4 linked regions of the Homo sapiens genome follow. The protein of the gene in region 1 interacts with the protein of each later gene in a pairwise test. Each region holds a gene or a part of one and is shown on either strand. Other genes may lie near its edges.

Region 1 (8,036 bases):
GCGACAGAGCACGACTCCATCCCAAAAAAAAAAAAAAAAAATCAATCAATCGAAAGAGGACCTGTCTCCTGGGGAGGAAAAAAAAAAAAGAATGTCCAGGAATTCATCACTCGGCAGACACTTGGCCCAGGCTTTATATACAAGATCTCACAATGACAACAATTTCCAGACACTGATGTTTTATGATTTCAAGGGGTGGAACAAAGAATATCAGTGTCTCTGCCCTGGGGATCAACCTGGGAGGCCCCAGGCTGATTCTCAGAGCTGTGGGGTTCGGCACTCACTGGGTCCCAGGTTCCCAGCTGAGCAGTTGTTCCCACAGGTGAGGTCTGAATGCTCACAGCCACCTGGTGGGGCAGACATGCAGATAACTCCATTCTACAGCGGGGGAGACTGAGCCTGGGAGGGAGGGAGGTGCCCACAGTTCAGGTGGCTGATGACCTTAAGGACCTCCAGGGGGCCCCAGCTTCTCACACACTGCATGCACCATGGACCTTGGGAACAAGATCTCAGGCAACAGTAACTCCATGGAAACTTCCTCCCAGGCGGCTTCTGGTATCATCCCCACTTTACAGAGAAGGAAACTGAGGCTGAGAGAAGTGTAGTCTCCAGTTCTGTCTCGCACGTCAGCGGCAGAGCCAGAGCTGGGCCAGCACCTGCCCCGGAGCCGGTGCCCTCCTGATCACCCGGCGATATGGCCTCTTAGGATGCTCCCCACAGCCCCACGGAGCTCAGAGGTCCCTTTCTCAGAGGAGGAAACTGAGGCTGAAAGAGGTTTCGTCAATTCCCGAGGTCACACAGGTGATGAGTGGAAGAACCAGGGGTAAAATTTAAATCTCTTTGGCCCCCGAGCCCCGCTCTTCACCCCCAAGTCTACCTAGGGACCCTAGAAACAGAATGAGGCTGGTCTCCTGCCCTGCTCCCACTGCAGGCCAGGCCTGCAATATGGCTCATCTGGCTGGATCATGGTGACAGCTTATCATTGTCCCCACTTTGCAGAGGAGGCAACCAAGGCCCAGAGAGCCCACATGAGGGGTCCAAGGCCACACAGTGAGAAAAGAACAAGATTTAAACGCAGACTCGGCCGGGTGTGGTGGCTCACGCCTGTAATCCCAGCACTTTGGGAGGCCGAGGCAGGTGGATCACCTGAGGTCAGGAGTTTGAGACCAGCCTGGCTAACAAGGTGAAACCCCATCTCTACTAAAAATACAAAAATAAGCCAGGCATGGTGGTGCACGCCTGTAATCCCAGATACTTGAGAGGCTGAGGCAGGAGAATCGCTTGAACCTGGGAGGTGGAGGTTGCACTGAGCTGAGGTCATGCCACTGCACTCCAGCCTGGGCCACAGAGTGAGACTCCGTCTCAAAAAAAAAAAAAAAAAACCAGACTCATGTGGCTTCATGCCAGCCCTTGGCAAGACCCTCCCAGCTCAGCCACATTCAGGGCCCTCCCTTGTCAGCCACTCCAGCCTCTCTCTGCAGCCTCTGTTGGCTCCTCTGTCCAGCGGGGACAAGGAGCTGGGTGGATGCACCCACTGCCGGCCATGAGACCTGGGGGAAGCTGGGATCCACGGCACAGTTAGAGCCTGAGCAAATCAACTCCGTGATCAACAATGTGATCCCTGAAGCATCCAGAAATTCACACACAGTGGGCAGCCCTGAAGTCGGACCTCACTCTGTGGCAATCACAGCCCTCGCTCGTTCCTTTTGGGAAAACCGCATCACACCTCCTCTCTGTGGCAGTCTGTCTACCTGCTTCTACCCTTCTGCCCTTCATTCATTCATTCATTCCCTGCATATTCACTGAGCACTCACTGTGTGTCTAGGACTGACCCAAGCACTGGGAATACAGCCGAGAGCAAGACAGACAAGGCCTCAGCCCTCCTGACAGGGGCAGACGGGAAACAAGGTGTCAATCAAGAGTTTTGCAGGAGACCGGCTGGGCGCAGAGGCTCATACCCATAATCCCAGCACTTTGGGAGGCTCAGGCGGGCTGATCACTTGAGGTCAGGAGTTCGAGACCAGCCTGGACAACATGGAGAGACCCCCCATCTCTACTAAAAATACAAAAAATAGCTGGGCATGGGGGCACGCGCCTGTAATTCCAGCTACTCAAGAGGCTGAGGTGGATGGACTCCTTGGACCTAGGAGGTAGAGGTTGCAGTGAGTGGAGATCGTGGCACTGCACTCCAGCTTGGGCAACAGAGCAAGACTCCATCTCAAAAACAAACAAAAAAAAACTTTGCAGAAAGAAGATCAGAGAGAGTGACTGTGCTGGAAGCTAAGAGGGCGGGGGCGTGAGGATTCCCCAGTCCCGAAGTAGAGCCTGGGCTGAAAGCCAGAGCCTCTGGGTGCATTGAGGCCCTAAGTGATCAATTCACCAGCACAGTGATCCCCAGTCATCACATTCCTGGCTCTCTCGGGCAGGCCCAAGTCCACCCGGAGTTCTTCCTGTTGCAGCCACAGACCTGGGCTCTCTGCGTATATGTCTGTTCCGTCCCTTGTCTGTCATTCATCCATCCATCTATGCAACACATATTTAGGCAAATCCCAACCACACGCTGGGCACTGGGGAAAAATCAGTGCTCAACAAGGGAGGGAGACAGGCCATTTGTGGATCATCGCGCAAATGAAAATTTCAGGCAGTGCTAAGAGTTTTAAAGAACATCCAACAGAGCGGTATGCTGAGGAGTTGCCTTAGAACCACGGTGAGAAGCCCCCAACCCCGGATGCCGTCAGGGCTTGAGGGGACCCCCTTGCCCACAAGCCACCCTGAATCCTCCCAATGCCCCGAGTGCCATCAGCCAGTCCCTGCTGTCTAACCTTACTCCCTCCTGCTGCAATCACAGCCTAGCCCCGTTTCCACAAATGCCAGGACGGCACCTCTGTTTTGTGTGTGACTATTCAGCAAACATCACCTGCAGAGCACGGCAAACACAGCCACGAATAAGATAAACCCAACTTCTCCCCTCTCTTTTTTCTCCCCTCCTCGGTCCCCTCCGCCTCTCCTGCAGACGCTCACCTTCAGAAAGGAGGGACGGGGCTCTCCCGTGGCCCAGGACCTAGACAGAGCGGCCAGACAGCAGAGGCTGAAGGAAACACATCCCCTCACATGGGGAGATTTTAAGCCTGGGCCGGGAGTGATGTCATTTGTCATGGCCTGGAACTCGGAGGGTAATCCCGGCCAAGGTGGGGGACTCGACTGGGCACCAGGAGGTGACATTGGCTGGGAGGGGGAGGGGCACCCGTCTGCTTAATCCCCTCCTCTTCCCCCCATGACATCTTGGCAATTAGGGCTGATGGGGAAGGGAGGCCCCAGCTCCTGCCGGTGACCATAAGCCCCTACTCCTCAGGGAAGTCCTTCCTTAGGTCTAACTGGTGTCTCTCCAGCTTCAGCTAGTATCCCAAGAGAGAGGCATCAAAGAGGAAGGAGAGCACTGTCAGATGGTCCTGAGAGATCGTCTGAAAAAAGAGAGGCACGGAGCTTTCGGGATCCCTCTCCTGGGTCCCCCTTTCTCTCCACAACAGTCTGTCCGACAGCTAGTTTATCTCTGTAGTGCCTCATTGGTCTCGGTTTCTGCCTCAGTTTCCCCTGTTTCTCTCTCTTTGACTTGGTCAAGTCTTGTCTGTGGCCTCTCTGTCTCTGTGTTGTCAGACATGATATTCTCCTCTTTTTGGGGGCGGAGGTGGCAGGGGCTGCTTCCAGCACTGAAAATAGGCAGACTTATTAGAAAGGGTGTTTTGTTTTTCTGTTTTTGGTGGAGTTTGGGGTTTGGGATTTTTTTCTTTTTTTTTTCCTTTTTTTTTTTTTTGGTTGAGACAGGGTCTCACTCTGTCGCCCAGGCTGGAGTGCAGTGGCATGATCACAGCTCACTGCAGCCTTGACCTCCTGTGCTCAAGGGATCCTCCCTCCTCAGCCTCCCCAGTAGCTGAGACTTTACAGGCACATACCACGATGCCCAGCTAATTTTTTTATTTTCGTAGAGATGGAGTCGCTCTATGTTGCCCAGGCTGGCTTCAAACTCCTGGCCTCAAGCAATCCTCCCACCTCGGCCTCCCAAAGTGCTGGGATTGCAGGCGTGAGCCAACAAACCCAGCACTCACCATCTCTCTACACACCATTGGTCTTTGTCTGGCTTCTCTGTACCTCAGTTTCTTTTCCTGTGGGCCTTAGGCTGTGGCATTTCTGCCTACTTTCCTGAATACCACTCTTTCATTCTCCATCTGCTCCTCTCCGTCCCTGTCTCTGTTGATAAACCTGCATTATCCCCTTGGTCTCTCTTATTCTTTTTCTCTGTGTCTCCCTGTCTATCTTGCTCTTTCTCCCCTCTCCCTCAGCCTCCATGTCCTTCTGTTCCTGTCTGTCTGTCCCTCCCTTTGCTGTCTTTCTGCCTGTCCACCTGTCCCTGTAACTCCAGCCTCATCTCTGTCCCTCTGTCCTCGCTTATCCTCTGCAGCTCCAATCTCTGTTCCTCCTTCTCTTTTTCCCTGTCTCTCTCTCTCTCTCTCTCTCTCTCTGATTCTTGCTTCCCCTCTCCCTGGATTGCCCTTCATTTCTGTTTTGTTTTGTTTTTGTTTGGAGACAGAGTCTTGCTCTGTCACCCAGGCTGGAGTGCAGTGGCACCATCTCGGCTCACTGCAACCTCCACCTCCCCGGTTCAAGCAATTCTCCTGCCTCAGCCTCCCGAGTAGCTGGGAGGATTTCCTTTCATTTCTGTCCTTCTCCCTGTCTTGGTACCTCTGTTGCTCTGTATTTCTGATTTTCCTGGTCTCTGGCCCTCTTTGTGTCTCTCTCCTCTCGTCTGTCTCTCTAGATATTAATATGTCCCTGAGCTCCTGGGTCCCACACGGGTCTGTTTCACTTCCCCGTGCACCCAAACACGCACGCAAGCACACACACACACACACACACACACGCCCGGTAATCCCTCCTTGTGGCTGGGTCATTGTGTCTCAGCCATAAGGGGCCCTTTCTTTCTCCTCCTCCCTCCCCCAAACCCCCTGCTAGGAGAGATTAAGGCTACAGGCCTGGCTGAGGAATCAGGACAGGTCTCATTAGCTTGAAGAGCCAGGGATGACAGCAAGAGAGGGAGGGGCCGTCTGACCCTCGGCGACCAGTCCAGAGGCTCCTGATGGGAGAATCCAGTCCTGGAACAGACCCCCTGGCCCTGCAGCAGGGAAGGAAGGTCAGCTGTACAGGGAGAGGGAGGAGAAAATAACTTCCAGCGGGACAGAGAAGGTGTCAGCAACTCTTAAATCACCTGCCCTGGGGAATCTGGGTACTGGTTGGCTCCTGGATCCAGAGTCCTTCCAGGGGTGGGGGTACAGAGAGGTGGGTTTCAGCTGGTCCTGCACATGGCCCTGGGATCAAGTAAGCTGAAATCAAATCCAAGCACTTCTTCTCTGAGCTAGGTCTTCTGAGGCAACTTGCTTTCCTTCTCATCTCCACCCAGTGGCTCAGGCAGAAATCTGGGCACTCAGCCTGGCCCCTAACCCCTTTCTCCTCACCACTTACATCCAATCCATCCATAAGTCCTGTCATCTCTTCTATCAGATCATTATCCTACTGAAACAATATAAAGCACTGCTGGAAGAAATTAAAGGAGACTCAAGTCAATAGTGAACTATACCATGTTCATGGTTTAGAAGACTCAATGTTATTAAGAGGTCAATTCTTCTCAAACTAATCTTTAGATTTACTGCAATCCCAATCAGAATCTCATCAGGATTTTTCTGTAGAAATTGATTGTCAAACTGATTCTGAAGTTGCTATGGAATATAAATGATCTAGAATAATCAAAGCAGTCTTGGAAAAATAAAACGAGTTGGAGAACTTACGCTACCTGACTTTGAGACTTATTGTAATGCACATGATTGCAGCTGGAAAAAGTGGGGTTAAGGATTAAGAAAATGTGGCACATATACACCATGGAATACTATGCAGCCATAAAAAAGGATGAGTTCATGTCCTATGCAGGGACATGGATGAAGCTGGAAACCATCATTCTGAGCAAACTATCACAAGGACAGAAAACCAAACACCGCATGCTCTCGCTCATAGGTGAGAATTGAACAATGAGAACACTTGGACACAGGGTGGGGAACATCACACACAGGGGCCTGTTGTGGGGTGGGGGGCAGGGGGAGGAATAGCATTAGGAGAAATACCTAATGTAAATGATGAGTTAATGGGTGCAGCAAACCAACATGGCACATGTATCCATATGTAACAAACCTGCACGTTGTGCACATGTACCCTAGAACTTAAAGTATAATAAACAAAAAAAGTGGGGTTAAATTCTGGGGACAGTCTGAAGATGTATGGAATACTGGAGGATCCTTGGATCAGGTTGTTGATGAGTTTCACTCCAGGCTCTACTGCAGGATGGGGGTGCTCCTCATACCTGCACCCCCTTAGCTCCCTAACACATTCATCCTATTTAATCTTTTGCAAAACTCTTACTGACATCTTGTTTCTTGTCTGCCCTTGTCAGGAGGATGGGGCCCTGTCTGTCTTGTTCTCAGCTGTATTCCCAGTACCTAGGACTGTCCCAGACACACAGCAGTAAGTGTGTGTTCAATAAATGTGAAAGAAATGGATGGATGGATGGACGGAGGGATGGATGGATGGATGGATGGATGGAGGGATGGATGGGTGATGGATGATGGATGGATGGATGGATGGATGGATGATGGATGGATGGATGGATGGATGGATGGGTGATGGATGGGTGGATGGATGGATGGATGGGTGATGGATGGATGGATGGATGGATGGATGGATGGGTGATGGATGGGTGGATGGATGGATGGATGGATGGGTGATGGATGGATGGATGGATGGATGGTGGGGCAGAACCAGGTAGAGACACTGGCACAGAGAAGTGGTGTGATGTTTTCCCAAAAGGACCAAGGGTCTGTGATTGCAGCACTGTGAGGTCAGACTGTGGGGCTGCCCACTAGTGTTTGAATCTCTGGATGCTTCAGGGATCATATTGTTCCTGAGTTAATTCATTCAGGCTCTAACTGTGCCATGAATCCCTGCTTCTACCAGGTCCCATGCCTGGTAGTGGGTGCATCCACTCAGCTCCTTGTCCTCACTGGACAGAGGAGCCTACGGATGCGGCAGAGAGAGGCTGGCAGGGCCAACAAGGGAGGGCCCTGAACATGGCTGAGTCGGGAGGGTCTTGCCAAGAGCTGGCATGGAGCCACATGAGTTTGGGTTTAAATCCTGTTGTTTTCTCACTGCGTGGCCTTGGGCCCTTCATATGGGCTCCTGGGCCTCAGTTTCCTCCTCTGCAAAGTGGATACAGTGACAAGCTGTCACAATGAGCCCTGGGAATCCCATGGGAGCAGGGGAGGAAGCTGACCTCATCCATCTTCTAGGAATCCCAGGCAGACTCGGGGGTGAAGAGCGGGGCTCGGGGGCCAAAGAGATTTAAATTCTACCCCTGGTTCTTCCACTCATCACCTGTGTGACCTCGGAAATTGACGAAACCTCTCTCAGCCTCAGTTTCCTCCTCTGAGAAAGGGACCTCTGAGCTCCGTGGGGCTGTGGCGAGCATCCTAAGAGGCCATATCACCTGGTGATCAGGAGGGCACAGGCTCCGGGGCAGGTGCTGGCCCAGCTCTGGCTCTGCCGCTGACGTGGGAGACAGAACTGGAGACTACACTTCTCTCAGCCTCAGTTTCCTCCTCTGTAAAGTGGGGATGATACCAGAAGCCGCCTGGGAGGAAGTTTCCATGGAGTTATTGTTCCCTGAGATCTTGTTCCCAAGGTCTGTGGTTCATGCAGTGTGTGAGAAGCTGGGACCTGTGGGCACCTCCCTCCTTCCCAGGCTCAGTCTCCCTGCCTGTAGAATGGAGTTATCTGTGTGTCTGCACCACAAGGTGGCTGTGAGCATTCAGGCCTTACCTGTGAGAACAACTGCTCAGGTGGGAACCTGGGACCCAGTGGGTGCCGAACTCCACAGCTCTGAGAACTAGCCTTGGGCCTCCCAGGCTGATCCCCAGGGCAAGGACACTGATCTCCCTTGT
Region 2 (7,598 bases), on another chromosome or scaffold:
TTCTCTTTCCTTCGGACCCTCAAGGTCCTCACATTTATCACTCAAAATATATGTAAACATCAAATTAGCATGTTTCCAAGAGCACTTTATCTAAGCTCTGTTTTAAGTGAAATAATTTTAAAAATCACTTCTATATGATACTGTAACTAAATGCCACTCCAAGTTAAACACAGTTCTACCTAACATCTGAGTAACTAAATGCCACTCCAAGTTAAACACAGTTCTACCTAACATCTGAGGTAGAAATACTGACATTAATAGTAAGAAAGCATTACAGTGAAACAATTTTAAACAAAAGGACTCCTCAACCTGTGGGGAAGAGTTGTATGAGTTGTGTGATATAGCTTGGGATAATTAAAGATAATACTAGGTAAATTTGCTCAGCAAGACCTAAATCATCAGTGAAAAGCTTTAAATAAAAACTATAAAAGTTTGATGACAATCCATATCTCAATAGGACTCAAAAAATAAACTCTCAATAATATAATTTTTTAATAATAATAGTAAACACTGACATAGAAGTCACAAGGTATGCGGCGAAACCCCGTCTCTACTAAAAATACAAAAAATTAGCTGGGCGCGGTGGCGGGCGCCTGTAGTACCAGCTCCTCGGGAGGCTGAGGCAGAAGAATGGCATCAACCCGGCAGGCAGAGTTTGCAATGAGCCGAGATCGAGCCACTGGCACTCCACCTCAAAAAAAAAAAAAAAAAAAAAAAAAAAAGAAGTGACAAGGTATGGGATTCAAGAAAGAACACAGACCATACAAGGTTGAAATAAATCTTTGCAATAAGGATTAAAGAGAACAAGGACAACTGGTCACTAAGCAAGTCAGAGGCAAAGCTTGGACTGAATCCTAGCTTTGCTCAACCAAGCTAGTGTTCTTTCAATTCTATCATGCTGTTTCTATGGTTTAAAAAGCCCAGGTAGATGACCAGTATCTGACCTAAGGATATAGCAAAAAAAAAAAAAAAAATTATATATATATATGAAGACAAAACAAAAAACAAAGAAAAACACTAAAGCACTTATCTGTGGACTCAGTAAGTTTCTAAAATAAAGTTTACGCAAGGTGAGGTGGCTCACACCTCTAATCCTAGCACTTCAGGAGGCCTAGGCAAGAGGATTGCTTGAGGCCATGAGTTTGAAAGCCCAAACAACATAGCAAGGCCCCTCCCCACCACACCCAACAAAAAAATTTTTTTTAAATTAGCCATACATGGTGACAAGCCTGTAGTCCCAGCTACTTGGGAGGCTGTGGCAGGTGGATCACTTGAGCCCAGAAGTTAGAGGCCGCAATGGGCTATGATCACGCCACTGCACCCCAGCCTGGGCAACAGCATGAGACCCTGTCTCTATAACAAGGAAAAAATAAATAAATAAAATAAACTTTAGTGATGAGACAAAAATTCCAATTTGTTTAAACTGGTATTTTGAAGTTATGGTGGTTCTGCTATTAAATGCAAGGAGGGAAACTAAAATGAAGATATTGTCCACATTTGAACACATTTGGCAATAATCTGAGAAAAACCTTAAGTTAGCCGAAGGTGACAGTCTTCCCAACAACAATCTCTTACATCACAAATTTCTACAACAAAAACAGGTGTTTTATCTATCATACCATCAAACATAGTTAACAGCACAGACTATATCTCCCGGGCTCAAATCCTGACTCTACAGTTCAGATTCCCACCCCTATCTCATCTCAATAAAATCACAATTTCCCCAGGTTATAAAAGCCTCTAATGTTCATCCTTGCTCCTCCAGACTGTACCCTTATTAGCAGGCTAGGTTATAGAGCCAGCACAGATATACTGAGGCTCCAACATGTCCTGTATAATATACTGGAAGAAAATATATATTACCAATTATGCTTTGAGTTCCCCAAGACCACCCTCATGTTCAGTAATTTGCTAAGAAGATTCAAAAGATTCAATATACAGTTGTACTCATCGTTATGATTTATTATAGCAAAAAGATACTAAGCACAATCAGCAAAGGAGAAAGGCACAAAAAGTCCAGGGGAAATTAGGAGCAAGCGTCCGGGTGCTCCCTTCCAGTTGAGTTGCAATGAACACACTTAATTCTCCCAGCAGTGAGCTGTGACCACACATGTAAAATGATGCCAACCAGGGATGCTCATCAGAGACTCAGTGCCAAAGGTTATTAGGGAGACTGGTCATGTAGGTAACCCTGGCTGGCACATATGCCAATTCCAGAATCCCAGAAGAAAAGCAGATATTCAACATAAACCATATTTATTATACAAACAACTTAGGCACAATGACAGACTCATCACTTAGGGTGGTGGGACCATCCCCAAGATTCCCCTCAGATGTCAGCCAACCACCGCAAGGCCTGCTTTGTTAACTCTTTTCTCCACACCAATGACTAACAGATCCTTTTGAGCATGAACCTTATCTACCTATCCCCTGCTAATCCCCAGGTCCTAAGAAAGTGCCAGTCACTCCCCTCCAAGTTGTTTTTTTCTTTTTTTTTTTTTTTTGAGATGGAGTCTCGCTCTGTTGCCCAGGCTATAGTGCAATGGCACGATCTTGGCTCACTGTAAGCTCCGCATTCCGGTTTCAAGTGATTCTCCTGTCTCAGCCTCCCCAGTAGCTGGGATTACAGGAGTGCACCACCACACCCAACTAATTTTTGTATTTTTAATAGAGATGGGGTTTCACTATGTTGGGCAGGCTGGTCTCAAACGCCTGACCTCAGGTGATCCACCCACCTCGGCCTCCCAACATGCTGGGATTACAGGTGTACACCACTGCTCCAGGCCTCCTAAAATTTTTTTAATGAAAAAATTTCTGGCTCCACTACTTTAAGTTCTGTGTACCTGGGTAATAATATTACCTACCTCAAAGGTTGTTTTGAAGATTATATGAGTTAGTATATGTAAAGTGTGAAGTACATCATCTCTGGTAAAAAAAAAAAAAAAAAAAAAAAAAACACTATATAATTTGTGAGTATATATGTAATGTTATTATTTGCTTTTTTTTTTTTTTTAACATTCTCCAGGTCACAATGGAGCTACCCTATCTCTAAACTTCTAATGAATCTACCAATGTAAACATAGATTAGAAGTTAACTGGTAATTGTTTCATGTCTACTGAGATCTCTAACTAGCTTGTAGACAACTATATCCAAAACTTTTTGTTTTTGTTTTTTTGAGATGGAGTCCCACTCTGTCGCCCAGGCTGGATGGAGTGCAGTGGCGCCATCTCGGCTCACTGCAACCTCCGCCTCCAGGGTTCAAGCAATTCTCCTGCCTCAGTCTCCCGAGTAGCTGGGACTACAGGCATGTGCCACTGCACCTGGCTAATTTTAGTATTTTTAGTGGAGACAGGGTTTTGCCATGTTGGCCAGGGGTGGCCTCAAACTCCTGGCCTCAGATGATCCACCTGCCTCAGCCTCCCAAAGTGCTGAAATTACAGGCATGAACCACTGCACCCGGCATCCAAAACTTTTTTAACACACACAGTAGTATCTAACGTAGTACTTAATCTTTTTAGTGCCCAGAAAATATTGATTTATCAACAAAATTAAATGTCTGTTAAATCAACTCTTTACAGTGGTAAGAATGTAAGGCGGTCAACTCTTCTGATAATAACTACAAAATGGCCTCCAAGTTTCTTTGATCTTCTTTCATTGAGAAAATTGAGAAACTGAACTAAAATGGCTTAATTCTAATCCGTGAAAAGACGATTAGTAGAAGCGTTTGAAATAAGCAAAAGGGGCTGGGTGTGGTGGCTCACACCTGTAATCACAGCACTTTGGGAGACTGAGGGAGGCAGATCACTCGAACCCAGGAGTTCAAGACTAGCCTGGGCAACATGACGAAACGTGGTCTCTACAAAAAATACAAAAATTAGGTAGGCATGGTCGCACACATCTGTAGCCCCAGCTACTTGAGAGGCTGAGGTGGGAGGATTGCTTGAACCAAGGAGGGAGAGGTTGCAGAGAGCCTACATCGCACTCCAGCCCAGCGACAGAGTGAGACCCTGTACCAAAAAGAAAAAAAAAGAAAAAAAAAATGCCAAAGCACTTTTTTGAGTTTATAAAGTATATCGTTTTAAACATTCTACTTTGCCTTAAAGAGAGCATGGATTCAAGTCTGTTATAGGTTAATAAAGGTGGAGAAAGATATATATATATATCTTGTACAGCAACAATTTAGGAGATGTAAGCCTCCTTAATTAATGAAGTCAAGTACTGAAAGTTTTATCTTAAACAAACAAACAAACAAACAAAAAAGACAAAGAAGAACTGTGAAGAACAAAAGGAGGGGAGACAACATGCAGCCCAAGTTTTAAACTGATGAGTCAGAGACCAATGATTTCCATCTCAGCTCTGATACCAGGGCTCTGCCCAATCAGGAAAAACCTCGAGATCAGCAGAATTACAAGAACAACAGACCCATCAGACTGAAGTTTCACATTTTGAGGAAACTTTTAGATTGGCAAATTTCTTTAGGTGAATTATAATCAGACTTTCACTTATATAAATTTGTCCTATAAGCATCAACATCATAATAAACACCAGTTCCCCAAGGTGAACTTTACTTTTTAGTAAATATTACTACACTTTAAAAGTAACAACTCTAAAATATCAAAGACTTAATGAAAAACATGAACTCTTGGATTGGCTCTTGCAATCAAATGGGCTCTACACGTTTCTACTTTTTGAAAAAGTTAGAAAGCTAAAAGACTCCCTTGAAGGCAAGGTATTGGACATAATTAGGATCTGCCAATTATCTGCACATGGAAAGCACAAGTGGGACAGAGGCCACATTCCTACAGAAAGGGCAACTAACAAAAAACGTCTACAGACACTAAGTGGTTGCAGCTCCATAGGCCTTATGCCCCCATCAGCATACCAGTCTCCTGGGTGAGAAGCAGTTATGACAGTGGGGCAGCGGTAGCAGTGGTGGTATGTGTGGCCTTGAAAGCAGTTCAGCAGTGGCTCCCTGACTTTCCCTCCTCCAGCCCTTCCAATGACTTGGTAAGTACCTGATTCCTGAAAATAGCTACAGTGGATCTCTTTCCTGCTCTATACCCTGACTTATATATTGACATTGTGTGAATTTAGGTCCTCTTGCCCTCTTCTTGGACCACTGTTCAACATCTCCTAACTCAGGATTTGCCTGCAATCCTCACTATCCCAGTTCTTCCTCTGACCTGAGACTACCAAAACTGATCATGCTTAAAGAAAGCTTATCTAGTAAGGGCCGTATGGAAACTTCTTCTGTTCTTTCATACTGGTACATGTGTGTGTGCAGCTGTGTCCTTTAATTCCTTCTCTATCTGATGAAATCCCACTCCACCTTCAGAACCTAGCTCAAATGAAGACTCCTTCTGTGACTGGTCCCAACAGGGTCACTCCACATGCCACTCCCTTTCACAGGTGCACTCCCTTTCACACACCCTGCTGCCTGCCAGGGGCTCTGTGCTCATTCATTCACACATTCATTCATTCAAAAAATATTTGCTAAGTTACATTTGCCTACCACATGTCCTGAAAACTGGGGATACTACCCTAACCAAGATAAACAAGGTCTCCTCTCTTACAGCTATAATCCAGCAGGGATACAGTGTACCCCATAATTACCTAAATAATGTTTAATTACAATTGTGATAAGTGCAATAAAAGATTCAGGGTGTTGTCTTTTATGTATAAACGGAAGCCTAACCTAATCTCAGAGGATCAAGGAGAATTATTTCCCTTGAAAAGACATTTAAGCAGGAATTGAAAGATGAGCAAAAGCTGAGCAGGCAAAAACTTGTTAGAAAGCTTCCCAGGCAGAAGAACAGCACGTGCAAAGGTCTTGAAACAGCATTCTAGGAACTGTAAAGACCACCAATGGGCAAAAGTCAAGGTGCAAGGGGAACAACAGCCCAAAATAAGTATAGAGGTAGTTATTTCTTAAAACCATTATTACAAGCACTTAGCACATCGTTTTAGAATCATTTATTTGCAAAAACACAACCCACACTAAACAAACTCCTTTAGGTCTTACAAATTTTTTTAGCTCTCTTACCTAATACAATATCTAACAGTGTGTCTTCAAGTCAAGATCTGCGGAACAAAGAAACGAGTGTTTGATCTCAGCAATGAGCTTACCCTCTCAATATCAGACAGGCTAAACAAAACAATCTCTAGAGTTAAAAAACCTTATGTTTCTGACTACCCAAAATTGAATGGGCAAGAGACTCACTTTCATACCAATTTAAACATGCTCAAAATCAAACCTAGCAAAAGATGGAAACAGACCAAATGTTCATCAATAGACGGATAAATTGTGGTCTATCCATACAATGGAATATTATTCAGCCATAAAAGGAGTGAGGTACCGACACATGCTACAAAATGAATGAACTTTGAAAACATATGAAGTCAAAGTCAGAAACAAAAGTTCATATGTTGTATTATATTAAATATCCAGAACAGCCAAACCTACAGAGATAGAACATGCAATAGTGTCTGCCAAGGGCTGGGGAGAGGGGATAGTGGGAAGAAACCGCTCAATGTGAATTTTATCTATATGTTTTGTTTTTGTTTTTGTTTTTCCCTGAGACGGAGTCTTGTTCTGTCACCCAGGCTGGAGTACAGTGGCGCGATCTCGGCTCACTGCAACCTCCGCCTCTCCGCCTCCCAGGTTCAAGCAATTCTCTTGCCTCCGCCTCCCACGTAGGGATTACAGGTGCCTGCCACCATGCCTGGCTAATGGTTTTTGTATTTTTAGTGGAGACGGGGTTTCACTATGTTGGCCAGGCTGGTCTTGAATGCACTTTTAAAATCTCAGAAATATACATTAACAAGCATGGGACATGTCAATGTGGTACCTGCCAAGCCCAGCGATGTTTTCTAGGAGCCCTACTCAGCCAAGTTCAGGCTACTCCTGATGTCCAACACAAGATGCCCTATTCAGAGCATGTGAAAGAATAGAGAAGTGAAAAAAAAAAACAAAAATCAAAGCTAGAATTACCTGTAGATAACACTTTAAATACTGAAAACTAAACTTGAAGCTGGCAAGGCATTCCCAGTCCTCACTGCTCCCTAAAGTGCCACCAACTAATAACCAACAAGAGCTGCTTTAAACTCCCACTGAGTCATGAATGCAGCTAGGAGAGAGGAGGAGTAGTTCCATCTGCCTGTTCTTAAATTCTCCAGTTGTTCAACAGATTTGGTAAGAGCAGGATCAAGAGCAGGAAACTGGCGCCTATGCCATCCTTTTCTCCTTCGTTGCTTCCTAAATACTGTCAATCCAGGAAACACAGCTGGTGATTCAGTAAGAAAATGTCAAAACCCAATTGACATACCTCTACCAACTATGATAAGGCAAGATAATACAGGCACCTCAAATCCTAAGCTTTAGTTTTGGTACATATTCTCAAAGATCAGTGGAAGAAGCTTCTTTGAAAGAAAGAAAATTGAGTTAACTAGGAAATAACTTTGAAATACAGTACATGAAAAGTTTGATGCAATTTACTAGACAGTGAAGAAAACATCAATACATACACAGAATGAAACTTCTTAGTAACTGAGCTGTAGAGTAAGACCTTTAACATATCTTTTAAAAGTACTATATTTA
Region 3 (7,391 bases), on another chromosome or scaffold:
GGATCCTCTGGGCACTCTCTAGAGGCGGGATATATACAGTCTCTGAATTTTAAAATAGAAAACAGTGGGCAGCGGGGAACGGAGTAGAGGGAATCAGAGGTGCCAAACATTAAAGATATTTTGGGTAATAAAAATTAAAAGTTCATGTATCGCAAGGACAAAAAACCAAACGCCGCATGTTCTCATAGGTGGGAACTGAACAATGAGAACACTTCGACACAGGAAGGGGAACATCACACACCAGGGCCTGTCGTGGGGTGGGGGGAGGGGGGAGGGATAGCATTAGGCGATATACCTAATGTAAATGACGAGTTAATGGGTGCAGCACACCAACATGGCACATGTGTACATATGTAACAAACCTGCACGTTGTGCACAGGTACCCTAGAACTTAGAGTATAATAAAAAAATTAAAAGTTTATGATTTAAACAAAGATTCTTATTTCCTGGGATCATTTTGTCACCTCAGTGCTTGCTTCTGGGTTATGGACACTTGGGGGGGTGGGCCGGATTAACTGTCTTGTCTCTAAACACCTGGGTGCGCTGGCGCTCACTCTCAGCTGCGAGCTGAAGCCCACGCTGCTCTCAGGCTTCCCGCAACAGGCACCTGCGACTTCGCTCACCAAAATCTTCCAGTGGCCACAGTGAGCGGGCAGGACTGGTGCCAGCAAGCCCCAAGCATCCCAGGCCCTCTGGACGCAGGTGACTCTTCTGGCCTCTTTGGAAAGCCATTGGAGCTCGAGAGGCATAGCCAGCTGCCTCCTTTCCGTCCATCCCCAACCGCGTTCTCTAAGCCACGTTCTGTGCGCCTTACTCCCAGCACTCAGCCATTCCCCAGCCCCAGAGGCCTTGGAGTAGTGACCTCTGCCCACCAGAGAGGAGGGGGCCGGAGGGTGGGGCGGAGCCTTGTGGCAAGGCAGGTGGGTGCAGGCCTCTGGGGCCCCAGACTGCCGCGTCTGGCTCTACCAGGCTGTGTCTCGGGCCCCGTGCCTGCAGCTGCAAGGCGGGGAAAGACCTATCGGGAAGATCCACCTCGGCCTGGGCAGAAGGAAACTTTACTGAGAGTCTTCTCTGAGTTTGGAATTATGCGGAAATTGAACCCAAGATGAATAACACGCAGCCACAGCCCCAGAGAAGCTCGAAGTCTAGTGGGCTGCACCGACTGCGACAGGGACCCAAAAGAGGCTGGGGAACAGGGATTGAAATGGAAGTGTGAGAGTGAGAGCATAGAAGGGGTCCTAGCCCAGCCCAGGAAACAGAAAAGTCTCCCCATAGACAGTGAGAGGCTTGTACTGATACCTGAGGTACGCGCAGGAGCTGCGTGAAAGGAGAGGCCCAGAGCCAGAAAAGAGGAAGGCGCATCCTGGACGCTCTGCGCCCTGGAGGGAGACGAAAGGCCCGGAGAGAAGCAGATTAGGTCGGTGCCCTTAGAGGCCTCTTCCTTCACTTCCGGGAAACAGCGGCGGTTCCCTGACAAAATCCCTGTTGCTCGGGGGTTCGGACGCCTTGCTAAGGCTGGCACGCAGCGGACCTTGAGTAGCTGCGCTGTGTACTGAACGTGTGCACAGCTTCTCCAGGCAAATGTGCAAGCGGAAAGACCTCATCCAAGCGTTATCTCCAGCCCTGGAGGAGAATGAACTGGTAGCCTGGGGCCAAACTTCAGGCCGTGGACAAAGCAGGAGGAGTATTTAGGCAACCTCTGTCCTAATGCTTGTTCTGGTTGTGACCGAAGTTGCTGACTCTCCTCAGGGGTCACGTCTCCAGGACGTGCTACCCGGTGGTTTAGACCCGTCAGGGAGGCACAGCGTGAAGGGACAGCGCAGCGCAGTAGAGGCACCTGCTGGAGACAGCACCAGGCCAGACCCCAGGATCACGGGAACTCCTGCTCCCGCCACAGCTCTAAAGAGTGTTGAATAAACCGGTGGTCACCGGTACTGCGTAAGGGGTGTGCGTGGCTTTGCAGTTCGCCTAGGAGACAAGCTGATGCACGGCCTGGAAGGTGCAGCCCTCATCCCTGCGTTCCCTCCCCGCGCGGAGTTCCTGTCTCAAGGCCAAGACGCGCAGCGCTGATGCTGGCCCCTTCCTAGGTCAGTGCAGCTGGACCAGGCAATCGGGGTCTCCGAAACGTCGGGGGGTCAGCTGGCGCCCTGCCCACCATCGAACGCCCTTCGTATCACTCCGCTCCTCATTGCGAATTGGACTGCGCATTGGCTGCGACCCAAGGCTGAACACAAGAAGCTTGGAGAGGAGCTCGGGCGTTTGAGGAGAAGGAAATATGAGGAATTGCAGGAAGGCGCTCGCCTGCCCGAACTGCCTCCGGGCAACTGGAAAGGATTGTCCTGGAAACTGAGAGGAGAGAAAGGACGTAGGACCTTGTGCCAGATCCCCTTGCTGAGTAATTTCCAAGAGCTTGGTTTGCATTAACCCAGAACTTTGGGTGTGCGTTTGGTGTCCCCTGGGGGGTTCTAGAGTGAGAGATTGGCGGGTCCCCTCCGAACGCTGGATCTCGCTGCAGATATCAGTATTTCTCTCATTCCTTCCCAAAGCCGTCGGGATCGCCCAGTAGAATTAGAATTGGGTGATTCCTGAATCTCCTATCCCTGGCTGGCTCTGAATATAGCGCACCGCTGGTCAGACCTGAGTAGGGGTTGCCAGCGACGCTCGGAAACCCTTTCCAGACTGGGCTGAAAAGTGCGTTTGCTTCCTGAGACCCTAAGCTAAATGAAACTTCCTGCAGAGAAAGCAGGGTTACAGGGCTGGATGGAGGCTCTGGAGAAAGGCCAGAGCTGGGGTTGGGAAGGAATGTAAAGGCTGTGCACCTGTTTGCCAGCCCTCGGAGGTGGAGCCCATGGCTAAGCAAATCAAGCGCAGGATCAGTCTTTCCAGCGTGGTTTATCTGCATGGCAGGTGTCGATTGCCCCAATAGTCTCATCAGGTGTTCCACATTGGGCTGCAGAGCCATGAAATCCCTAGGCGTGACGTCTAGTGGAATGGGGGTGAAAATAGGGATTTTCAAATCCTATACATCAAGCATCACTCCCAGAGTCACTTTTGACAAATCACCTAGTTTTTCTCAACCTTAGTTTCCTAATCTGTAAAATGGGGATATTGCCCACCTCTCTGAAAAGTGCGCCAAGGGTGAGAAGTTCCACGCGTCTTTCTAATTTTAGGAAGGGGAAGCAAAGTCTTCTCCTCAAACTTGATACACTACATGCTAGAGAAAGATCCTCCCTTCCGGCCTCCTCATTCCCTGTCACCCTCCCCCACTCCTAGCCCCTCGGAGCCAACGGAGCCTTGCGCGTTTCTGGCCGGTCCTCCCAAGAGAGAATGGTGCAAAAGCCAATAAGCCTGGAACACACGCAGGTCCCGCCGGGCCTGGGACAATGGTTTCCATTTAATAAATATTTCCCCCAAGGGCATTTCACATCGGGCAGGCAATTATTCAAAGGAAACAGGCGCGCAGGTTGGCTCTGCGGGTTATTTCGTCCTCTTTACCCGAAGAATGCTCATTTGACGCAAGAAACGAGTCTCGCAGCCTCCCTGGGTGGGAAGAGGCGCCCAGGGACAAACCGACCCTGGTTGCGATACACCGTGAGACTCCGCTGTAGGGCCGCTGCAGAAGGGGCACCGGGAAGAGCCCCATACCCAGCCTCTAGGCTCTTCTTACGGTATGAACATTTGTGGAGTAAAAGTTGGAGGTTTAAAGACACTAAATAATAATAACATAAATGGGAACTGCAATAGAAATCTCAGCCCCATCCCTGCCCCAAAAGTGAAGAACAGGTCGTAGTGCTTTTAAGGGCTCACCAACTAGGGTTCGAAATCTCTGCATTGCCTGACGCGAGGCCTTCCAGGAGCAGGTCAGACAACATTGCTCAGCCACCCAGGGTCCCAGCGCTACGCCCGGGCGCCGCATCCTGGGGCAGGGGTGGATGCCTAGTTGCAGGGGCTTCCCGGGAGAACACTGCCAAAGCACCGCCGAGGGTGGGGCGCGAAAAGTTTATTTCGCTTTTACCCTGAGCCTGCTATATGTTATTTTTCTCTTCCAAGGATATTTGACAAGAGGGCAAAGTGCTGTCCTTGCATTTCGCGGCAAAGCTGTCCTATTTATCAACACAAGCTCTCGCCTCGCTCCCTTTGCTGTCCCTTCCCCGGCCTTTGTATTTCAAGCCCTAATTCTCTTTCACAACCGGGAAAGGAAACAGGAGACGCGGAAGAGTTTTATTTGTTGACAGTGCCCGAGACAATGTGGAACCGAAGTCCCCAGTCTAGAGCTAGCCTCTCTGCTCTAGCCCTCTCTCTGCCTCTGTCCCTCACACCTCTCCCCGCCCCCACCAGTCGCGCTCTCTGTTTCTTGCACCGGCGTGTTGGCAGGTGCGCCCCCTCGGCTTCTCTGCTGCTGATTGGCGCCCAGGTTGGGGAGTCGCCGCCCCGCGCTTATGTCAGAGTGCGTGCAGTCCCGGCCCACCTCGCCTTTGAACTTCGCCGCTTTTGGCTCTCGTTCACCAGCCTCCCCGCATTCTCAGCCAGGTGCAGCGCTAGGCGCGGCAGCTCCGGGAAAGCCACGGGAAGGGGGAGCCACGACTGGAAACGCAAGAGGAGAGAAGGGAACTAGAGAAGGCAAAGGTGGAGAGGGGGAGAAGGAGGAGCTTCTTGCCCTGGCTAAAAAATTACCTGGCCACTTAATCCCGGAGACTCCGATACTTGGGTCCCAGCCCCTGGTGCCTGAAGCCCCCCGGCCGATCGCCCTCTCCTCCCCCGCCCTTTCTGCCCCCACTCGCTCCCCCGGGGCTGCCTGGGCGCTGGGACTGGCATGATCAGCTGAACTTTGTGGGGTCAGCGCTTCTCTCTGGCTTCCCCTCAGCGGCGCCAAGGCGAGGGGAGCGCAGAACCCCGGCTCAGGACGGACAGACAGACGGCCAGCCGCGCCCAGGCTCGTCTGCAGAACCCTTGCACTCCCTACCCCCACCCACCTAGCCGCCGGGACCATGTCCAAACCTTCAGACCACATCAAGCGGCCCATGAACGCCTTCATGGTATGGTCCCGGGGCCAGCGGCGCAAGATGGCCCAGGAAAACCCCAAGATGCACAACTCGGAGATCAGCAAACGCCTAGGTGCCGAATGGAAGCTTCTGTCCGAGGCAGAGAAGCGGCCATACATCGATGAAGCCAAGCGGCTACGCGCCCAGCACATGAAGGAGCACCCTGACTACAAGTACCGACCTCGGCGCAAGCCCAAGAACCTGCTCAAGAAGGACAGGTATGTCTTCCCCTTGCCCTACCTGGGCGACACGGACCCGCTCAAGGCGGCTGGCCTGCCCGTGGGGGCCTCCGACGGCCTCCTGAGCGCGCCCGAGAAAGCCCGGGCCTTCTTGCCGCCGGCCTCGGCGCCCTACTCCCTGCTGGACCCCGCGCAGTTTAGCTCGAGCGCCATCCAGAAGATGGGCGAAGTGCCCCACACCTTGGCTACCGGCGCTCTGCCCTACGCGTCCACCCTGGGCTACCAGAACGGCGCCTTCGGCAGCCTCAGCTGCCCCAGCCAGCACACGCACACGCACCCGTCCCCCACCAACCCTGGCTACGTGGTGCCCTGTAACTGTACCGCCTGGTCTGCCTCCACCCTGCAGCCCCCCGTCGCCTACATCCTCTTCCCAGGCATGACCAAGACTGGCATAGACCCTTATTCGTCAGCCCACGCTACGGCCATGTAACCCCCAGCCCGGCCCGGACCTGAGGCGTGGTCTGAAAGCCGGGTCTGCACCCTGTCCTCTGAGCCTAGCCCCGGCCTGCAGACGCCTCCGGGGTCAGCCCTGCCGCTGTCCCTTACACCACCCAGACTTTTCCTCTCTCTTCCAGGGGGAAGGGTGGGGCGTCCTCCCGGACCCAAGGCGCAGACAGGTACCGGAAACTTGCAAACGTTATGTCAGCTACACAGCTGCCCCTATCCCGACTCTCCCAAAACAAATCTCCGACTGTACCCCCTTTGGACAAAAAAGTAGGCAGTTTTGCTTTATTTATATCCCCTTCACTCTCCTCGGATAGGCTTTGGACTCTGAACTCCCAGATTCTGATATTATATCTACAATATGCATATATTTTTTCCTTTTGTCCCCTGAAGAAAAGAGTTAGCTGTGTCTCTGTGTTTTGCCATCAGACACAACTAGGAGCCATTTGCTCTTCATGTATGGGGGGGAAAGGCTTCAAAGTTTTAAATTACAGAAAGGGAAACATTTCTATTTAAAACCATGCTATGATAGTGTTTGCTTCTTTAAAGGGAAAACAAAAAGGACCTACATGGTTATTTACTTTGTGTAAAGCAGTGCTTCTAGAGATCTAAGTTTACTTTTAGACAGAATGTCGGGTTATGAAGTCAGGAAGTAGAAGGTGAACAAAAAATTAAAAGAACAAAAACAACCTAAATGGTCATAAATGTTTTGACGATGTCTTGGAAATGTACCTAGAAGGATTTTACCTCGTTGCTCTGTTCATTTGTTGAACAAAGACGTTTTGAATAAAGACAATCTGTCATTGTAAAAAAGTAACCTTTGATGTGCCTAAAATCTGAAGTCAGGAGCCAGGTTGGAGGGACTGGAAAGTCGGGTGCGGGGAGGCTGAAAGTGCATAGAGCGACTTTAAGCAGTGATGGCTGGTGGCTGCCCCCCGTTGGCCCAGCTTGGTGGTCTGCGGGTTGGGTGTAGAAGGGCCTAGAGCTTCGGATCCGTCCGGAATGCGCCCTGGAGATTGCTTTTTGCCTTTAGAGGCTAGACAAAGGTATCGTTCCCTGGGACTTCACTCTCTCCTCCCATTCTTCCCAAAAGGGTCAGGCCACTTCAAGGAATGAATGAACTAAGTCAAAGGCCGACCCAGACCGCTGAGATCTGGGTGAGTTTACTTTTTAAAAAACCAAACGCTGAAGGAGCAGGGAGAAGCACCGAGTCTCCTGGGAACCAGTTGCGCGCTGAACACCCCGTCCTGCATTGGATGTTTAAGTTCAAAGCATGGGAGAAGACTGGGGGAATCAGGTATTCTGCCTTTTTAGGTGTTTGGAAAGGCTGCTGCCCACTCTTCTGGGGATTTGGTGCTTGATACTGGTTCCTAAGTTAAAAAATAAAACTCTAAGAAATGCAGAAAAATGTGCCATAGGTCCCTGCCCCAGAATGTCGAACACTTTTTGCTGAGACCCTGCAGGAGCAAAGGGAAAAGGAAGGCGACATTGTCATGGCTCAGGCAAGGAGTTTTTAAAAATCGTAAAAAATCAAATAAAAGCACAGCCCATGACGTTAAACAAGGAAAAGAGTCCTTTTCTTTCCCCTCCGGGTGAATGTTTTCTTGAAGATTATTGTCTTTCCTGAGAAAGGACCCTCCGATGTTATCCAGCAAAACTCTTTGGA
Region 4 (7,598 bases), on another chromosome or scaffold:
TTATGGAAATGTTACCCTAAGTATTCCTTTCATATGAAGACAATCCTGAACCCCCAGCAGCCTGAACTACCTCCACTGCTGATCCCTGGTGACTTATAACTCCAACCGAAGACATTAGCTACAGATTTTGCTGCACAGCATCTCCTGCATTCTTTTGGTGGGGGGAAATTCTTTTTTTTTTTTTGAGGTAGAGTGCAGTGGTGTGATCTCGGCTCACTGCAATCTCCACCTCCTGGGCTCAAGTGATTCTCCTGCCTCAGCCTCCTAAGTACCTGGGACTACAGGCATGCGCCATCACGCCTGGCTAATTTTTGCATTTTTAGTAGAGATGGGGTTTCACCATGTTGGCCAGGCTGGTCTCAAACTCCTGACCTCAGGTGATCTGCCCACCTCGGCCTCCCAAAGTGCTGGGATTACAGGCGTGAGCCACCAAGCCCGGCTGGGGTCGGGGGAAATTCTACCATGAATTTCCTTTTTCCTCAAATATAGCTAAGTAGATTAACAGAATATTAATAGAGAACAATCATTGCAAATGTCAATAAGTTTCAAAAAGATCACGAAGCCCCAAAAGAACTTTTTACTTTTATCATTAATTTAAAGCAATAAACTAAGTCATTTAGGCTCAGTGAAAAAAATTCCAAAAAAATGTAGAGTACAAGCTATTCTTTCTTGGGGAAACCAGTTTGCAGCATATGATTCTAGACATCCTTCAATACCCATACACATTTACGTTTTTACATGCAACAAAATTTTTCAAAAAGTAAAATAAGCAAAAAAAATTGTATACTAAATATACCATACCAAATCTGTATGTTTAAGTGCATCTCCAACTAAAACTTACAGGCTGTTTTCAGTGACCATGAACCCAGGCAGTGAGCACAGCTTTGAAAGAAGGGCAGGCAGAGCAAATGTCCTGTGAGGACCATTGAAAAGCTTGTTCTATGTTATGGCAAATGTCAGAATGCAGCGATTATGGCAGAGGATGATAAGAAGTTGTTTACACGCTTATAATGAATAATTTCCCAACAAAAACCAATTATTAAAAATACCATATTATGGCCAGGTGCGGTGGCTCACACCTGTAATCCCAGCACTTTGGGAGGCTGAGGCGGGCAGATCATGAGGTCAGGAGATCGAGACCATCCTGGCTAACATGGTGAAACCCTGCCTCTACTAAAAATACAAAAAATTAGCTGGGCGTGGTGGTGGGTGCCTGTAGTCCCAGCTACTTGGGAGGCTGAGGCAGGAGAATGGCGTCAACCCAGGAGGCGGAGCTTGCAGTGAGCCAAGATCGCGCCACTGCACTCCAGCCTAGGCAACTGAGTGAGACTTTGTCTCAAAAAAACAAAAACAAAAACAAAAACAAAAAACCATATTATTTGAATTTAGGAACAAATCCATTTATAAGGCAAAATAATCATATGATTTTTTTTTAAGTAAATTGAAACCATAGTGAGATACCAATTCATATCCATTAGGATAAGTATCAACCAAAAAACCAGAAATAAGGGTCCAGGATATAGAGAAACTGGAATCTTTGTGCATTGTTGGTGGGAACATGAAATGGTATAGCCACTGTGGAAGACAGTATGGTGGTACTTCAAAAAGTGTGATTCTACTTCAAACGATATGTCCAAAAGAATTAAAAGTAGGATACATCTACTATGTACCCATAAAAATAAAAAACAAAAAATTATTTTTAAAAAATAATTTAAAAATAAATAAAAAAAAATTAAAAGCAGGAACTCAAACAAATATACATATATTTTTTGACAGGTTCTCACTCTGTTGCCCAGGCTGGAACGCAGTGGCATGATCATGGCTCACCCCAGGCTCAGGTGATCCTCCCACCTCAACCTCCCAAGTAGCTGGGATCACAGGGATGTGGCACCATGTCCAGCTAATTTTCCTTTTTTTTTTTTTCTTTTTTTTGAGACGAAGTCTCACTCTATTGGCAGGCTGGAATGCAGTGGTGCGATCTCAGCTCACTGCAACCTCCACCGCCCAGATTCAAGCAATTCTCCTGCCTCAGCCTCCCGAATAGCTGGGACTACAGGTGTGTGCCACCATGCCCGGCTAATTTTTGTATTTTCAGTAGAGACGGGTTTCACCACGTTGGCCAGGATGGTCTCGATCTCTTGACCTCATGATCCACCCGCCTTGGCCTCCCAAAGTTCTGGGATTACAGGGGTGAGCCACCGCGCCCGGCCTAATTTTCTTTATTAGTAGTAGAGACAGGGTCTCCTGTATTGCCCAGACTGGTCTCGAATTCCTGGGCTCAAGCAATCCTCTTGAGTCAGCCTCCCAAAGTGCTGGGATTGCAGGAATGAGCCACTGTGCCCTGCCCAAACATATACTTTTACACCAATGTTCATAGAAGCACTATTCACAATTGCCAAAAGCTGAACACAACCCAAGTGACCACTGACGGATGAATGGATAAACAAAATGTGGTATAAACCAACATTGGTTTTATTGGTAGATATTATTCAGCTTTAAAAAGAAATAGGCTGGGCGTGGTGGCTCATGCCTGTCATAGCACTTTGGGAGGCCCAGGCAGGCAGACAGCTTGAGTCCCAGAGTTTGAGTCCAGCATGGGCAACATGGTGAAACCCCATCTCTACAAAAAATTAGCCGAACGTAGTGGTGTGAGCCTGTGGTCCAAGCTACTAAGGAGGCTGAGGAGGGAGGATTGTTTGGGCCCGGGAGGCAGAGGTTGCAGTGAGCTGAGATTGCACCACTGCACTCCAGCCTGGGGAACAGAGTGAGACCCTGTTTCCAAAAAAAAAAAAAAAAAAAGAAAGAAATGACATTCTGACACATGTATAACATTTCAAGATAAGTCTTGTGAAACATTATGCTAAGTGAAATGGCCACACAAAAGGATAAATGTTGTATGATTCTACTTATATGAGGTTCTAGAATAGGTAAATTTTTATAGACAGAAAATAAAACCGTTGATTATCAGAGGCCGGGGGAAGAAAGGGAACAGGAGTTATTGTTTAATGGGTATGCAATTTCTTCTTGGAATGATGAAAATGTTGTGAAAATGGTGATGGTTGCCGAACTGTGAATATACTTAATGCCACTGAACTATGCACTTAAAAATGGTTAAAATGGCATATTTTAAATGTACATTTTACCACAATAAAAAAATAAGCAAGCTTTTGTGGTAATTAAACTATGGAATTCTTGATTCTCTACCCTTGTTACCCTTGTGAAGCACCTTCTCTTTGCTGCCCATATATGTGCAATATATGGTGCAATATCTATTGATGAGAACAGCAAAAATACATCAAATGGGTAGACTCCCTTGTTTAAATTTATTTTGATTCATTTTTATTTTTATTTTTTTTTAATAAATACAGACAGGGTCTCACTATGTTGCCCAGGCTGGTCCTGAACTCTTGGACTCAAGCAATCCTCCTGCCTCAGCCTCCCAAAGCGCTGGGATTACAGGCATAAGCCACTGTGCTCGGCCTATTTTGATTTCAATGGTGTTATTCCTGCCAGAAAGAAATCCAAGATAAGCAATAAACAGATTATTTTGGAATTGAGAAAGCTGGAGGGTAAAAACAAAAGCCAAGGCAGCATTTGAAGAGGTACATTGAAAGTTATCAAATAGTTTTATAGGAGATCTTGACATACACATTTTAAAAAGTAAAGCAGCTATTTTACTTAAAAGGAAGCTTACATCCATAATAGTTACAGGTATGTCCCGAATTTTATGAGGTTCCACATAAGAATTTTGACAATTCAAGGTAAGTCTTGAAGCCAGTTCACTCTGACCCAAACTTTCTAGCTGCAGGAAGAAACACAGGTAAAGTTTTTGAAATAATTTTGTTTTTCACATTTACATTAAATCCACAGACAACATTTGTGCTTATAAAGGTGGTATCATCTGTGGTGGGGCCAGAAAAGTCATCAGTGAGGAACCACAACTTAGGTGAGAGACCATGAACTGGGCTTCTCAGGAGGTTGTGGCATTTTTCTATTCTGGAAACCTGGGTACAAACCAATGAAACCCGGCCTTCTACAGCCCTCAGCCTACACTGCCTACTCCAGCCAGGTGCCCATGGGCAGCAAGCCAATTCCTACTGCTCAAAGGTGACAGATATATGTTTTTGTTTTTTTTTTTTTTTTAAGATAAACCTTTAAGGGATCTTAAAAGAGATTTGAGAAATCATCTAGCCCAGCAGTTCCTAAATGCAAGCCAACAGACCTGGTTCATCAGATTTACCTGGTGGGTAGAGGAAAAGTGTGAAGTAAAAATAGATTCCCAGATCCCATGCCCAGGGATTCCAGATGGATGATCTGCTGTGAGGCCTTACAATCTGTATTTTTGAAAGCTCCCCTAAGTGATTTTGATGAATAGCTGGTGGGAAGCACTGATGTAGGCAAGCCCTTACCAGCAATAATATCTGCTCAGATGTATTACTCTGCTTAGCAAATACCTCTTACACATACTTGTGAGACAGATCTATCTTCTGGAACCAAGTAGATGTGAAAATTCCCAATACAATGTGTCCCCAACCCAATGTCATGATCCTTACCCTGTCTACCATGAAATCAATGGCATCAGCCATCATAGGGTCCACCGGGCCAGATGAAAAATTTCCAAGAACTATTTTTTTGAGCATAAATGCAGGCATCAGCCAAAAGCTGTAAAACACAAAGACCTTATAATTTAAACTTCCAAGACTACACATGGCAAATATTCATTCAACATTAAAGCTTTGTATTAGCTTGGGATCTAGAAATAAAAAGTCCTAATCCCCTCCTCCAAAGAGCTCAGCATCTAGTTTTTACACACACTTTCCCAAGCTTCCAAAGAGTTATGGCTTCATATAATTAAACTTTTATTTGAGGATTTAGGATAATTATAAGAGATATTTCAAAATACCTTTACTGAGATAGACATTCTGATGAGTCCAAGATTGTTTTTTTTCTCTAATTGGCCCTATTTCCAAGGATTAAACTATTTCTTTTGGAAAACTGAATATTAAGAGAAGTATTCTTTCCTTCTGGTTGATATTATGTTTTTATCGATTGATATTTCAAAACAGATTTCAAAATACCAATATGAAAGCTATTGCACCTCCCCAAATTTGCTACTATTAGATTCAACTTGGCTAATTCAAGGCAAATTGATATTTATAGATTTATTTTTTAAATTTATTATTGTTATTATTTTTTGAGACAGAGTCTCAGTCAGTTACCCATGCTGGAAGTACAGTGGCATGATCTCGGCTGGGTGCAACCTCTGCCTCCCGGGCTCAAGCAATTCTCATGCCTCAGCCTTTCGAGTAGCTGCGACTACAGGCACATGCCACCACGCCCGGCTAACTTCTGTATTTTTAGTAAAGATGAGCTTTTGCAATGTTGGCCAGACTGGTGGTGAACTCCTGGCCTCAAGTGATCCACCCACCTCAGCCTCCCACAGTGCTGGGATCACAGGCGTGAGCCACTCCTGGCCTCTTTTTATTTTTTAATTAAAAAATTTAAAAAAAAACTTTTAGAGACAGGGTCTCACTCTGTTGCCCAGGCTGAAGTGCAGTATTGTGATCATAGCTCACTGTAGCCTCAAACTCCTATCAAGTGATCCTTCTACCTTGGCCTCCCGAGTAGCTGGGACTACGGGCTCGTACCACCAGGCCTGACTAATTTTTTAAAAATTTACTGAGCTGGGGGAGCCGGGGCCAGGCACGGTGGCTCATGCCTGTAATCCCAGCACTTTGGGAGGCCAAGGTGGGCAGATCACGAGGTCAGGAGATTGAGACCATCCTGGCTAACACGGTGAAACCCCGTCTCCACTAAAAATACTAAAAATTAGCCGGGCTTGGTGGCGGGCGCCTGTAGTCCCAGCTACTCGGGAGGCTGAGGCAGGAGAATGGCGTGAACCCAGGAGATGGAGCTTGCAGTGAGCCAAGATCGTGCCATGGCACTCCAGCCTGGGCGACAGAGCCAGACTCCGTCTCCAAAAAAAAAAATTTACTGAGCCAGGCGCAATGGCTCATGCCTGTAATCCAGAACTTTGGGAGGCCAAGGTGGGTGATCACAAGGTCAGGAGTTCAAGACCAGCCTGGCCAAGATGGTGAAACCCCGTCTCTACTAAAAATACAAAAATTAGCCAGGGGCGGTGGCCAGCGCCTGTAATCCCAGCTACTTGGGAGGCTGAGGCAGGAGAATCACTTGAACCTGGGGGGCAGAGGCTGCAGTGAGAACGTGCCACTGCACTCCAGCCTGGGCAACAGAGCGAGACTCCCATCTCAAAAAAGAAAATTTTTTTTCTGTAGAGACAGGATCTTGCTCTGTTGCCCAGGCTGGTCTAGAACTCCTGGACTCAAGCAATGCTCTTACCTCTGCCTCCCAAAGTGCTGGGATTACAGGTGTGAGCCACTGTGACTGGTCAGATCTTTACGGATTTCTATATATGATCTTTAGTTTATATTTATTCCATTAATTTCAACTGTTAAGAGCCATCATGGAGGGCAAACACTAATTTCTGTAAACCTATGACGAAAATTACTTAGATGAGGTGCAAACTACCTTCTGATGCTTATTACCACTGGGACAGCCTTGCTGGAAGTTGAGCTTCCCTCAAAAGGACCACTAGGTCACCTTCCAGTTAACTTTCTAAGTTCTCTCCCAGCCCCATCACTTTCTTATCTTTTGAAGGTGATGAGGTCTAAGTACGCTCTGTAAGGGGTGGACCCTGTTGACTTTGCTCACTCCTGGATCCTCAGTGTGTGGCACACAGTAAGCACTCAGATATTTGACAATAAGCAGCTGATGTGCCAGAGCACAAACTGAATGGGGGCTGTCTTGGCATTCTAACAATTAGAACAGCAATAAAAATCACCAAAAATAATGAGCATTATTTAGTGCATTATCTGGACGGGAAGGATTTGTAAAGTAGCTAATGTATACAAGAAATTGTTGCATGAATGCTGAGTAATTACTAAGATAACATCAGAAAAACTAAAAAATAGCTGGGCACAGTGGCTCATGCCTGTAATCCCAGCACTTTGGGAGGCTGAGGCGGGCGGATCACGAGGTCAGGAGATCGAGACCATACTGGTGAACACGGTGAAACCCCGTCTCTACTAAAAACATAAAAAATTAGCCAGGCATGGTGGCGGGCGCCTGTAGTCCCAGCTATTCGGGAGGCTGAGGCAGGAGAATGGCGTGAACCTGGGAGGCAGAGCTTGCAGTGAGCTGAGATCGTGCCACTGCACTCCAGCCTGGGCGACAGAGCGAGACTCCATCTCAAAAACAAACAAACAAAAAAACAAACAACAACAAAAAAAACTAAAAAATATCAGAGTGCAATTTTAAGTAGATGTGAAAACGATATTTCCCTATACATTATTTGAAAACACTGATCATACAGATGTGTTTACTCACTGGGCTTTTTTTTTGAAGTAGGGTCTTGCTCTGTCACCCAGCCTGGAGTACAGAGGCACAGTTGTGGCTCACTGCAGCCTTGAACTCTTGGGCTCAAGCGATCCTCCTGCCTCAGCCTCCTGAGTAGCTAGGACTGCAGGTGCATACCATGATACCTGGCTAATTTATTATTATTGTTATTTGTAGAGATG

What was found.
Region 2: the proteins of CRX (region 1) and SMAP1 interact in binary tests that used the Homo sapiens proteins (3 or more experiments, as listed by UniProt).
Region 3: the proteins of CRX (region 1) and SOX14 interact in binary tests that used the Homo sapiens proteins (3 or more experiments, as listed by UniProt).
Region 4: the proteins of CRX (region 1) and SPG21 interact in binary tests that used the Homo sapiens proteins (3 or more experiments, as listed by UniProt).

The regions. Positions count from the first base shown.
Region 1 is NC_000019.10:47,816,996-47,825,031, reverse strand, and holds the start of CRX (cone-rod homeobox protein), read right to left. Parts: upstream 3,096-8,036; 5' UTR 3,022-3,095; intron 1-3,021. Other genes in the region: TPRX1 (tetra-peptide repeat homeobox protein 1), read left to right, coding at 5,981-6,060, 6,494-6,564. UniProt on the Homo sapiens protein: Transcription factor that binds and transactivates the sequence 5'-TAATC[CA]-3' which is found upstream of several photoreceptor-specific genes, including the opsin genes.
Region 2 is NC_000006.12:70,670,557-70,678,154, reverse strand, and holds part of SMAP1 (stromal membrane-associated protein 1), read right to left. Parts: intron 1-7,598. UniProt on the Homo sapiens protein: GTPase activating protein that acts on ARF6. Plays a role in clathrin-dependent endocytosis. May play a role in erythropoiesis.
Region 3 is NC_000003.12:137,759,797-137,767,187, forward strand, and holds SOX14 (transcription factor SOX-14), read left to right. Parts: upstream 1-4,518; 5' UTR 4,519-4,988; coding exon 4,989-5,711; 3' UTR 5,712-6,538; downstream 6,539-7,391. UniProt on the Homo sapiens protein: Acts as a negative regulator of transcription.
Region 4 is NC_000015.10:64,965,561-64,973,158, forward strand, and holds part of SPG21 (maspardin), read right to left. Parts: intron 4,663-7,598; coding exon 4,554-4,662; intron 3,803-4,553; coding exon 3,695-3,802; intron 1-3,694. UniProt on the Homo sapiens protein: May play a role as a negative regulatory factor in CD4-dependent T-cell activation.